3 separate regions of the Homo sapiens genome follow, and regions 2 and 3 are each reported to be linked to region 1. The links are microRNA targets in miRTarBase. Many come from high-throughput screens and were not tested one by one. Region 1 holds a microRNA gene; each other region holds the end of a gene's coding sequence. Distances are from middle to middle.
What was found. Region 1 holds the annotated microRNA hsa-miR-670-5p (GUCCCUGAGUGUAUGUGGUG, at 2,055-2,074, shown strand). A microRNA usually pairs through its seed, bases 2 to 8, with sites in the 3' UTR of a target mRNA and lowers its output. Matches are read on the target gene's strand: a 7mer-m8 pairs with bases 2 to 8, a 7mer-A1 pairs with bases 2 to 7 and ends in A, and an 8mer does both.

Region 2: miRTarBase lists EIF1AD as a target of hsa-miR-670-5p. Seed matches in the 3' UTR shown: 7mer-m8 at 2,752-2,758.
Region 3: the mRNA of PPP1R37 is a reported target of hsa-miR-670-5p. Seed matches in the 3' UTR shown: 7mer-m8 at 1,174-1,180.

What each region holds. Positions count from the first base shown.
Region 1 is chr11:43,557,621-43,560,966 of GRCh38, forward strand. MIR670 (microRNA 670) reads left to right here and starts at 2,036; the gene lies at 2,036-2,133. It also overlaps a transcript of HSD17B12 not described here.
Region 2 is chr11:65,995,814-65,998,813 of GRCh38, forward strand. It overlaps EIF1AD (eukaryotic translation initiation factor 1A domain containing), which reads right to left. Exons shown (of 6, transcript NM_001242481.2): 6 at 732-2,930. The coding sequence ends at 2,786. Among named protein-coding and RNA genes, the nearest start is that of EIF1AD, 4.8 kb to the right of the region's middle.
Region 3 is chr19:45,145,913-45,149,258 of GRCh38, forward strand. It overlaps PPP1R37 (protein phosphatase 1 regulatory subunit 37), which reads left to right. Exons shown (of 13, transcript NM_019121.2): 11 at 1-137; 12 at 478-568; 13 at 659-1,373. The coding sequence ends at 560. Among named protein-coding and RNA genes, the nearest start is that of NKPD1, 13 kb to the right of the region's middle.

The DNA.
Region 1 (3,346 bases):
AACCACCTGTAGAGGGAAATCTTTATGCATGATATCTTAAGGGCTGGTTGTGTAGAGGAAAACCGCCTGAAAAGGCTCCTGACAAAGTTTGCAGCAGGAAAGACAAGAGATACTGAGCCCTGCAGGGTGAAGGGTTAAAACTCGGGGGCGGCAGAGAAGGAGGGAACGGCTGGAGCTCAGCCAGGGTCTGTCAGTCTGGGGACTTACAGGGTTGGCCTTCCTGCTTTGAGGGGCTGGTGCTGTAACGGGGGGGAGCCTGAGGTGGAGAAGCTAAATGGGGCAGGGGCTTGCAGAATACTTGTGTGTCGTGGAAGGAGGGGCGTTCTATGAGGTCAGAGATCGTATGGTGCTTGGGGCCATGTGACGATAGGGAGGTCACAGGCCAGTTTTTCCGTTGGGTTCTGGTCCTCCCAGTTCCTCCCTGCTGCTGCACAAAGCGAGGTGGTTATCAACAAGTGTTTCTCCTGAGAAGATTAGTTTTGACAGGGACTTCAAGGGGTTTTTTAATCTGGGTAAATCCACCAGGGCTTTATTGTGTGTAGCAAAGAGAGTCATTCTTTGTTAGGAAGGAGCTTGGGGAAGAGAGGTGGAGGGGTGGAGAGAGGGGGCTTTTGAACATCAGCCATTTGACCTTGGGGGCCAGAGTTCAAATCCCCCAGAGGTCTGAAAAGGTTGAAAAGATATCATTATCCCTTCTCCCTCCCCCGCGTCTTTCACCCAGAGCTTTATGTTTAACGGGGAAAATCCAGCGCCTGGTGTTGGCCAAACCTCATCAATGGGAATTCCATGTGTCTGAGAGCAGGATTTTTTTTTTCATCGAGGGAAGCAGGCAGCACTCTCAGCTGTAGTACTGTACATTTTTTTCCCCCTGCAAATCATCTTCTAGGAAAGCTGAATCACCTCCACTCTGAAGAGCAGCCACTTCTGGGAGGTGGAACACAGGGGGAGGAGGGAATACCCCCTCCTCCATGGTCCTTAAATATCCGTGTGGGGGCACTACTTGAATGTCTGGTTCAGATGAGCCTGGAAATATGACGAGGGTTCTTTGGACTGGGCTGGTAGTTGAGAAGACCATCTGAGCGGGGATGTAATTCTGAAGGAGTAAGGTAGTGGCTTTTTCTTTTGCGCTGGGGGTGCGGGGGCGGAGGGGTGCAGCTGGCTGGGTCATCAAATTAACATGAGAAGGGAATCGTTTTCAGCAGGGAAGTAGGAGATTTGGGGAGGGTGCTTGGAAGATAGAATCAGCATGCTATTGCCACCCCCCACCCCAAATAACCAAAAGGCAAGGAGTACAGACATAGAAATGGGAAGTGAAATGTTGGTATAGACTGTGATTAAGCCTGCTGTTGGTATGAAGTGCTGTCTCACTAAATAAAGCAGAGTGGATGGTGGCTGCATCCCTGGATCTGCCGGTGTGAAGTAAAACCAGGTCAGCTGGCCTGACACCCACTGTCCATATCACTGAAGGTCCTGCTCCAAGAAGGGGGATGGAGAGTCTTCCACAGCCCGGAAAGCATCAGGTTTCTTTGTGTTGCACTTCTCAGAAGGAAATTGTTTCTGTTTATTGCTTAAGTCAACAAGTATTTGTCTCCCTTTGATATAAATGCTGTGGGGGAAGTGGTTACAAGAAAAAAAAATCTGGTCCTGGAATTATAGCCATCTGCTCTCCACAGTCCTCCAAGACTGTCAGTATCTCTCTTTACTCTGAGCTGTGGTCTTCTAGGGACCAAGTTCCAGAAGAATAGCACCTAAAAAGTATTTCATGTCCATCAGCCTTCCCCGGAGATCCATGGAAAGACCACCTCTCTCAGGTTCTACCAGGTGCCCAAGCACTTGTCACATGCAGACATGTATGTGCAGTGTACATGCACATATATGTGCAAAAACCACAACAGTATGCATGTGGGTACCCAGGGTTCTCTCCACATGAGAACCCACGAGAGCCCACGTCAGCTCATGAGCCACATACACAAGGAAACAGACCTTCTTCCTCTCTGTCAAGTCCGAAGATGCCAGCTGAGACGTTCTTCATCCAGTTTAGGGGTGGACCTGATGTCCCTGAGTGTATGTGGTGAACCTGAATTTGCCTTGGGTTTCCTCATATTCATTCAGGAGTGTCAGTTGCCCCTTCACGCGACGTTGGAGAGCATTACAGCAAGCAGGTGTCTACTCATTTATGGCAAGAATGAAGTCCGACTTTTATCTTCATCACCTTGGATGAGCCCTGGTGCTTGCCCTGTTTCTCAAAAGAAACCTAAGGGCAGGGGCAGAACTGGTTATAGAATTCATGGAACCTGGCACAAAATGAACACGTAGGGCCCCTTGTTCAAAAAGCAGGAAGAAAGTGCCTAAATATAATGCCTTTGTCTTTCTTCCACAATCTCTCTCTAGAATCGTCATGGTGGTTTTTTATTTGCTGTTTTTCATGTGGTGCTAAATAAAAATAAAAATTTTAAATTTTTAGCATGAATTTTACCGTTCATCTTTATATTGTGTGATGCCAGTTGTAAATGTAAACACAAGAGCGTTTAACTCATTTGTAGAATCACTGAAATTACACAATTCACATTTCATATGTCGCATATGCATAGGTATTTCATTCTTACCAGAACAATGGAGATGCTGACAAAATGAACTCCAGTGTTTTTATTTCACTTCTTGATACAAGCGCTTTGTACCAGCACTCTCCACCTTCAGCTTGCTGTTGAGGAGAAATAGCTATGGATTGCTCTATCTTCACCTTTCCTTCTGTGTCAACATTTTCAGCATAGGTGTTTGGCAAATACAGGGAAGGAACATAAGTAAGAAATGCTACTTTAGGGTCCCTTAGGCATTAGTGTTTCTTAGAACTCTATTGCCTTCCTTCTGCATTTGAAGCATCTGGTTCAAACAGAAAGCATGACCTCTGGGCACTGTCTGTGTCCCCCGTCTGTGTAGTCATAGGCTTACTTTCCATTCTACTTGCCCCGAGTCTCACTGAGCTCCCACTGGAATTCTGTACGCATGGGCTACTGCCAACATTGTGGGACAGGAACGATGGATGGGCACACACATTCTCTATTATCCCATAGACTTCACTTACAAAACACGGGTTCAAAGACAAAATTTTTAAGAATTTCAAGACAATAACAGTAGAATCTTAAACCAACCATGGAGCTCTTCTGAGCCAAGGGCCCTGCAACTACACAAGTTGCACGCTCCTGAAGTCAATCCAGGTGGGAGGAAGTAAGAAGTAACCTAGACTTCAGGCTGAGAACCCTATTACTCATCTTCCTTCGTCAAGCGAATAATTGAATCCGCAGCAAAAAAAAACTTGAACGGCCTCCATTTTTGACCCATTGGGACT
Region 2 (3,000 bases), 22 Mb from region 1:
AAAAAAATAAAAGTTGAAACTCCGTCTCTACTAAAAATACAAAAATTAGCCGGGTGTAGTGGCAAGTGTCTGTAGTCCCAGCTATGGAGAGGCTGAGGCAGGAGAATCGCTTGAACCTGGGAGGCGGAGGTTACAGCGAGCTGAGATCACGCCACTGCACTCCAGCCTGGGTGACAAAGCAAGACTGTCTCAAAAAAAAAAAAAATGCAGTATGGGCACACGGATCAATAGGACAGATTAGAAATTCCAAAAAAGATCCATATATATGCAGGAATTTATGTTTTAAAAGATATTTCTGGCCAGGCGTGGTGGCTCATGCCTGTAATCCCAGCACTTTGGGAGACCAAGGCAGGCAGATCACGAGGTCAGGAGACTGAGACCATCCTGGCTAACAACGGTGAAACCCCATCTCTACTAAAAATACAAAAAATTAGCCGGGCGTGGTGGTGGGTGCCTGTAGTCCCAGCTACTCAGGAGGCTGAGGCAGGAGAATGGCGTGAACCCGGGAGGCAGAGCTTGCAGTGAGCCGAGATGGCGCCACTGCACTCCAGCCTGGGCAACAGAGCGAGACTCCGTCTCAAAAAAAAAAAAAAAGAAATATTTCCAGTGAGCAAAGAATGAACCTTTCAAGAAATAGTACAGGGACAAGTGACTTTCCCTTTAGGGAAAGTTTGCTACCTCTCAGAAAAAACAAACTTCAGATGAATTAAAGATAGATACACACACATACATATCTTTAACCCATCTCGTTTATTTTTTGTATATACATCTACATACATTTTATACATTATATTCATATATACATATATACAAATGTATATATGTTTAAAGCCACGCTATAAGAGAAAGTAAATGAGAAACAGACAAATGAAGTGGTAGCTGGAGGACGTGGGAATCAGTACAGGTTTTCACGCCTGTTTCAGAAATGGGAGATTCTACAGCACGCTCGACACTAACACATCACATCCATAACATATCACATCCAATAGACAGGACAGCCAAAAACACAAAACAAAAAAAGAATCAAATACCCACACCCAGACACAATACTCAACAACACAAATACCCGACCAAAGTCTTTAAGAAAGCAAAAGAGGCCGGGCACAGTGGCTCACACCTGTAATCCCAGCACTCTAGGAGGCCAAGGTGGGTGGACCACTTGAGGTCAGGAGTTCGAGACCAGCCTGGCCAACATGGCAAAACCTCGTCTCTACTGAAAATATAAAAATTAGCCAGGCATGGTGGCACACGCCTGTAATCCCAGCAGTTTGGGAGGCTGAGGCAGGAGGCTCATTTAAGGTCAGGAGTTCGAGACCAGCCCGGGCAACATGGCAAAACCCCGTCTCTACTAAAAATACAAAAAGTTAGCCAGGTGTGGTGGTGCACGCCTGTAGTCCAAGCTACTCGGGAGGCTGAGGCAGGAGAGTTACTTGAACCCAGTAGGTGAAGGTTACAGTGAGCCGAGATCACACCACTGCACTCCAGCCTGAGCAACACAGGGAGACACTCTCTCAAAAAAAAAAAAAAAAAAAAAAAGATAGTCTCCAAAACACAAGAGGTAAGGTTTAAGTCCCATTGGCTTACGACAGGAAGATATGTGCACATCTGCAGAGCTGGTAACAGGGAGGCAGGCATTCCCTCTGATGGTTGCTGTTTCTTAATGAGGCATGTGTTGTGGTAACTACCACAAGGGGGAATTGATAGATAAGACAGAAGTTTTGAAACAGACATCCCAGAGTAGATCTGCTGGGCAGTGCTTAGTGTCCATCTGAGGTTTGTAATGATAAACGTAAGGTACAACTGGTGGCCAGGCTGGCTGTTTTCTCACCTAATGATGGTGACTTGGGTTTGGGCACAGAGGTGAATGATTGGGTTTACCCAGGGTTAGGGTTTTACTAGCGGAACAGAATGGAGGGAGACAGAGGGGTGTAGGGTGGACTACGGAATTGATGCTACACAAGAGGGAAGTGAAGGCAGAAGGTTACTCATGAGAATGTCAGGGCTGGTTAGAAGAATGAAGGGTGAGGGTGGAAAAGCAGCCTCTATTTAAAAGGTTATAAGACAATCAATGTCCTCAGGGAATAATCAGGTTTCAAATAAAGTCAGGAGATGGATGGACCATTCAAAACAAAGTTAAGGATAGAGAGATTTGCCAGCCACCTTCTGGAAGTGATAGATGGTGCAGAGTGGGAGAGATGAGGTCGTATGTGGGGATGGACACAGTAGCTGGAGGTGAGCACTCCCGTACACAGGGTGACTAGAAAGGCGGGGAGAACAGCACGAGGCACCATGGGCTCCTGAGCGTCTCTTAGAGGCAGGTGGGTGTTAGGTCCTAGGGCTGTCATCCTGAATGCTTAAATTGGTATGAACTGCAAGCAGGCAAGGAAGCAGGAGTGCTCCCAGCTGTTAAACACATGCAAGAAGGCCCAGAGCACGGCCTGGCACTTTCTAAGTGCCCAATAAGAAAGAACAAACCACCTGGGAAAGACTCCAGCCATTTCCCATTTCCTCCCCATTCAGCCCACCCACCCACAAGGTCTCTAATAAATAGGGAGCAGTTTTTCACTTCATCACAATCTCCCTCCCCCGAGAGAGCCACTCAGACACCAGAACAAGTCACCAACCCACCAGGGGTTTAATTCTCTGAATCAAAAGATCAGTTCAGAGAGGAGCCCTGCTTTGTCCTCATGCAGGGGTGAAGATGTGCAGAGCACCCTGGGAATGTCCAAGCCCAGAAGAGCCAGGGGCCAGTCCCTGAGCAAGTGGAGAATTGGGTCCTGGAGTCTCAGGCTGCCTCCTCCTCTTCACTCTCCTCCTCACTCTCATGATACTGTCTGCGGTTTGTGTTAACAAACAGGTCAGAATCATCTTCTGAGCTGGACTCCTCTCCTGATAACTGTGGCTCAGCTGGGAGTTCTGGTTGAGTTTGTCTGCACGAAGGGAAGAGAGCAGGGTTAGCCCAGCGCCTTCTGGGAAAATAATATCTACAATCAAGGAGTT
Region 3 (3,346 bases), not on the chromosome of region 1:
GCCTCAGCCACCACCGGAGCCGCCTCGGTCAGGGCCACCACTGCCCAACGGCCTGAAGCCCGAGTTCGCCCTGGCACTGCCCCCTGAGCCGCCCCCGGGGCCTGAGGTCAAGGGGGGCAGCTGCGGCCTGGAGCACGGTGAGAGGGGCCCTAGGGCAGGTGTTGAGGGGCCCTGGGTGCTGTATGTGACCCCAGGCAAGCCCCTGCCTGTTGTGGACCTCAGTTTCCCCCTCTTTAAAATGGTTCTCGCAGGGGCCAGCAAAGTGGGGCTTAGTTCTCATCTCCACCCTGCTTCCCTTGGGTCCTGGGAGCTCTTCCTGGGGTGGGGGGGCATGTAAGGTGTGCTGCCTTGAGCCTGACCATCTCAGCGGTCTCTGGGCACTCTGCAGGCCCTGAGGGTCTGGCTGGGGCCGGGCTGGGGACAGGTTGTATTTGCCCCACCCGCCTGACGGGGGTGCTGGCCCGTCCTCCCACACAGAACTGAGCTGCTCCAAGAACGAGAAGGAGCTCGAGGAGCTGCTTCTGGAAGCCAGTCAGGAATCCGGGCAGGAGACACTGTGACACTTTAGGTGAGGCCAGGCCCGGGGCCCACAGCACTCGGGAGGAGCTGAGAGAGCCTCTGGCTCTGACAGTCTCTCCCCCAATCTCTCCTCCCCAAGTTCCCTTTTTCCGGTCGGTCTGCGATGAGCTGAGGCCAGAGCCATGAGAATCTGCTCACCTTCCCCCCAGCCTTCCTGAGGCCCAGGATGCCAGGGGTGGGGGCCATTCTGGGGCCCCCCTCCCCCCACAGCAACACTACAAGGGGTGCAGGAGCTACAGGGAGTGGCCCTCCGCGCGTGACTCAAGCACTTCTATTTATGAGCCCAGCACTGGAAGACTCTGGGGGTGAATGGGAGGAGGGGGAGCAGGAGGAGGAGGAGGTCTCCAAGGACATCAGGCGCCTGTTCTGGAGGGGCCAGGCTTGCCCTGCGGAGGGCAGGCGTCCTGGGTGGTGGTGGGATGGTCCCCTGTGGCCCCGGGCACAGGGCCGGGCAGGCAGCCTGGTGCCGGAGAGGCGGTGCGTGCTGGTGGTGGTTGAGATGCACAGAACAGCCCCAGACAGCGCAGGCCGGGCAGGGTGGGGGGATGGGAGCAGAGGATCAGAGCTTTCTTTTTCTCAAGTGCAATAAATCTATCAGGGAGCTGGGGCGGGAGCAGCCGGCACTCCGGGACCCTGCTGTCCAGGCCACTGGAGGCTGCGCCCTGAGAGGCACTACAGCCCTTTGGGGGCGAGTGGCATGGGTGTGGGTGAGGGTGGGCAGAGGGCTGGGGCTACTCCTGTCGGTGCAACTCTGTTCACACCTTTTCTAATAAACTGGGGCTGGGTTCACTTTGCCCAACGTCTGCTTCGTGCGGATCCTGGAGGTGGTTGCTGGGGGTGGGCTGGGTGGAGGCCATCACAGCTCCTGGTTACAGAGCATCTGCCAGGGCACTGGTCAGGCATTACTGCGTCTTCCCCCACAGTCCCGTCTATTCTGCATCCATGCTCTGGTGTCTCGTACGGTCACCTCCCAGCCAGGCGAGTTTACACCCATCCTTTCTGCAGGGAGAGACAGGCCCCAGATACCTCCTGGCTTCAGGTCTAGGGTCTCAGGATGCTGGATATGGAGTGGCTCTGCCCAGTCGCCCATCGCTCAACAGGAACAGATCCCAGCCTGTCCCTGGCAGCCCCAGGTGTTGTGCAGGTGGGAGTATGCCCCGGGCCCAGCCAGCACTGCAGGAGCCTGGTGGGCGGCTTGTTCCCCTTTGCCAGCAGGGGCCTGGGGGGCCATGGGGGTGCTGTTGCGGATTTCTGAGAGGTCTGTTTTTCCCTTTAGGAAAGGGGGGAGCAGGCCGGGCATGGTGGCCCACACCTGTAATCCCAGCACTTTGGGAGGCTGAGGTGGGAGGATTGCTTGAACCCAGGAATTTGACACCAGCCTGGGCAACATGGTGAAACCCCATCTCCATAGAAAATACAAAAATTAGCTGGGTGTGGTGGCGTGTGCCTGTAGTCCCAGCTACTGAGGAGGCTGAGTTGGGAGGATCGCTTGAACCCAGGAGGTTGAGGCTGCAGTGAGGTGTGATTGCACCACTGCACTTCAGCCTGGGCAACAGAGTGAGATCCTGTCTCAAAAAAAAAAAAAATTACTAAACGAGCATTTCTGGGCCACCCATCCCCTTGTTTCCCGTGTGGGAGGCTGACATGGATGGAGGCGTTGTGGTGACATCACGAGAACCACAGTCGCAGGCTGGAGCCCTGGTGTCATTCAGCTCCTGCACACACCAGGGAGTCCCCTGCCCCCAGCCACCCTGGCCTCTGGGAGGAACACCTTAGGAAGCCACTGCTGGTTTGCTGTTTGGTCCCTTGCAGCTGTAAGTGTCCTAACTGCTCCCCAGGTCAGCCACGGCTAGGACTCTTATTTGGGCGAGGGACTTAGGGAAGCTACACAGAACAGCCGCCAGCAGCCCGCAGCACTCTTCCCATCCCTGCACAGCCAGCTTGTCCCCAGCTCTGCTAATGTGCGATGTGGCCATGGGTGAAGGGAAGAAGGGGCCCCCTCCTGGCCACTGTGGATCCAGCCCGTCTTGGTGAGGGGCCGGGGCATGTGAGGTGTTTGCATCAAGGTACTGAGAGACCTCTGTCCTTCGCCTGGTTTGGGTCAGCACAGTGCCCCAACGATCTTCAGAGGCCCTTGGTCGATATTAGCCGTTGCTCATGGTCTCAGCCTCTGTGGAGGCAGCTGTGTTGGGGTCTCACCCAGCCCGCTGGCCGTCTGCCTCCCCACCCCATGTGAGGTATGCTAGGGGAGGGACAGGGATCCTCTTCCCAGCCTGTCCCTTGATTTGCTTTCACTAAATTGAGCTTGGAGTGAGGAACTGGGCCTTTCTTACTGTTGGGGGTTGAATTGTGTCTCCCACAAAAAAAGATGTTTGTTTATTTATTTATTCATTTATTTATTGAGCTGGAGTCTCGCTCTGTTGCCAGGCTGGAGTGCAGTGGCGCAATCTCGGCTCACTGCAACCTCCGCCTCCCAGGTTCAAGCAATTCTGCTGCCTCAGCCTCCCGAGTAGCTGGGAGTACAGGCGTGCACCACCACGCCCAGCTAATTTTTGTACTTTTAGTAGAGACGGGGTTTCAACATGTTGGCCAGAATGGTCTCAATCTCTTGACCTCGTGATCTGCCCACCTCGGCCTCCCGAAGTGCTGGGATTACAGGCGTAAGCCACTGCGCCTGGCCAAAAAAAGATCTTTAAAGTCCTTACCTCCAGTACCCCAGAATGTGAGCTCACTTAGAAATAGGGTTTTTACAAAGGTAATCAAGTTT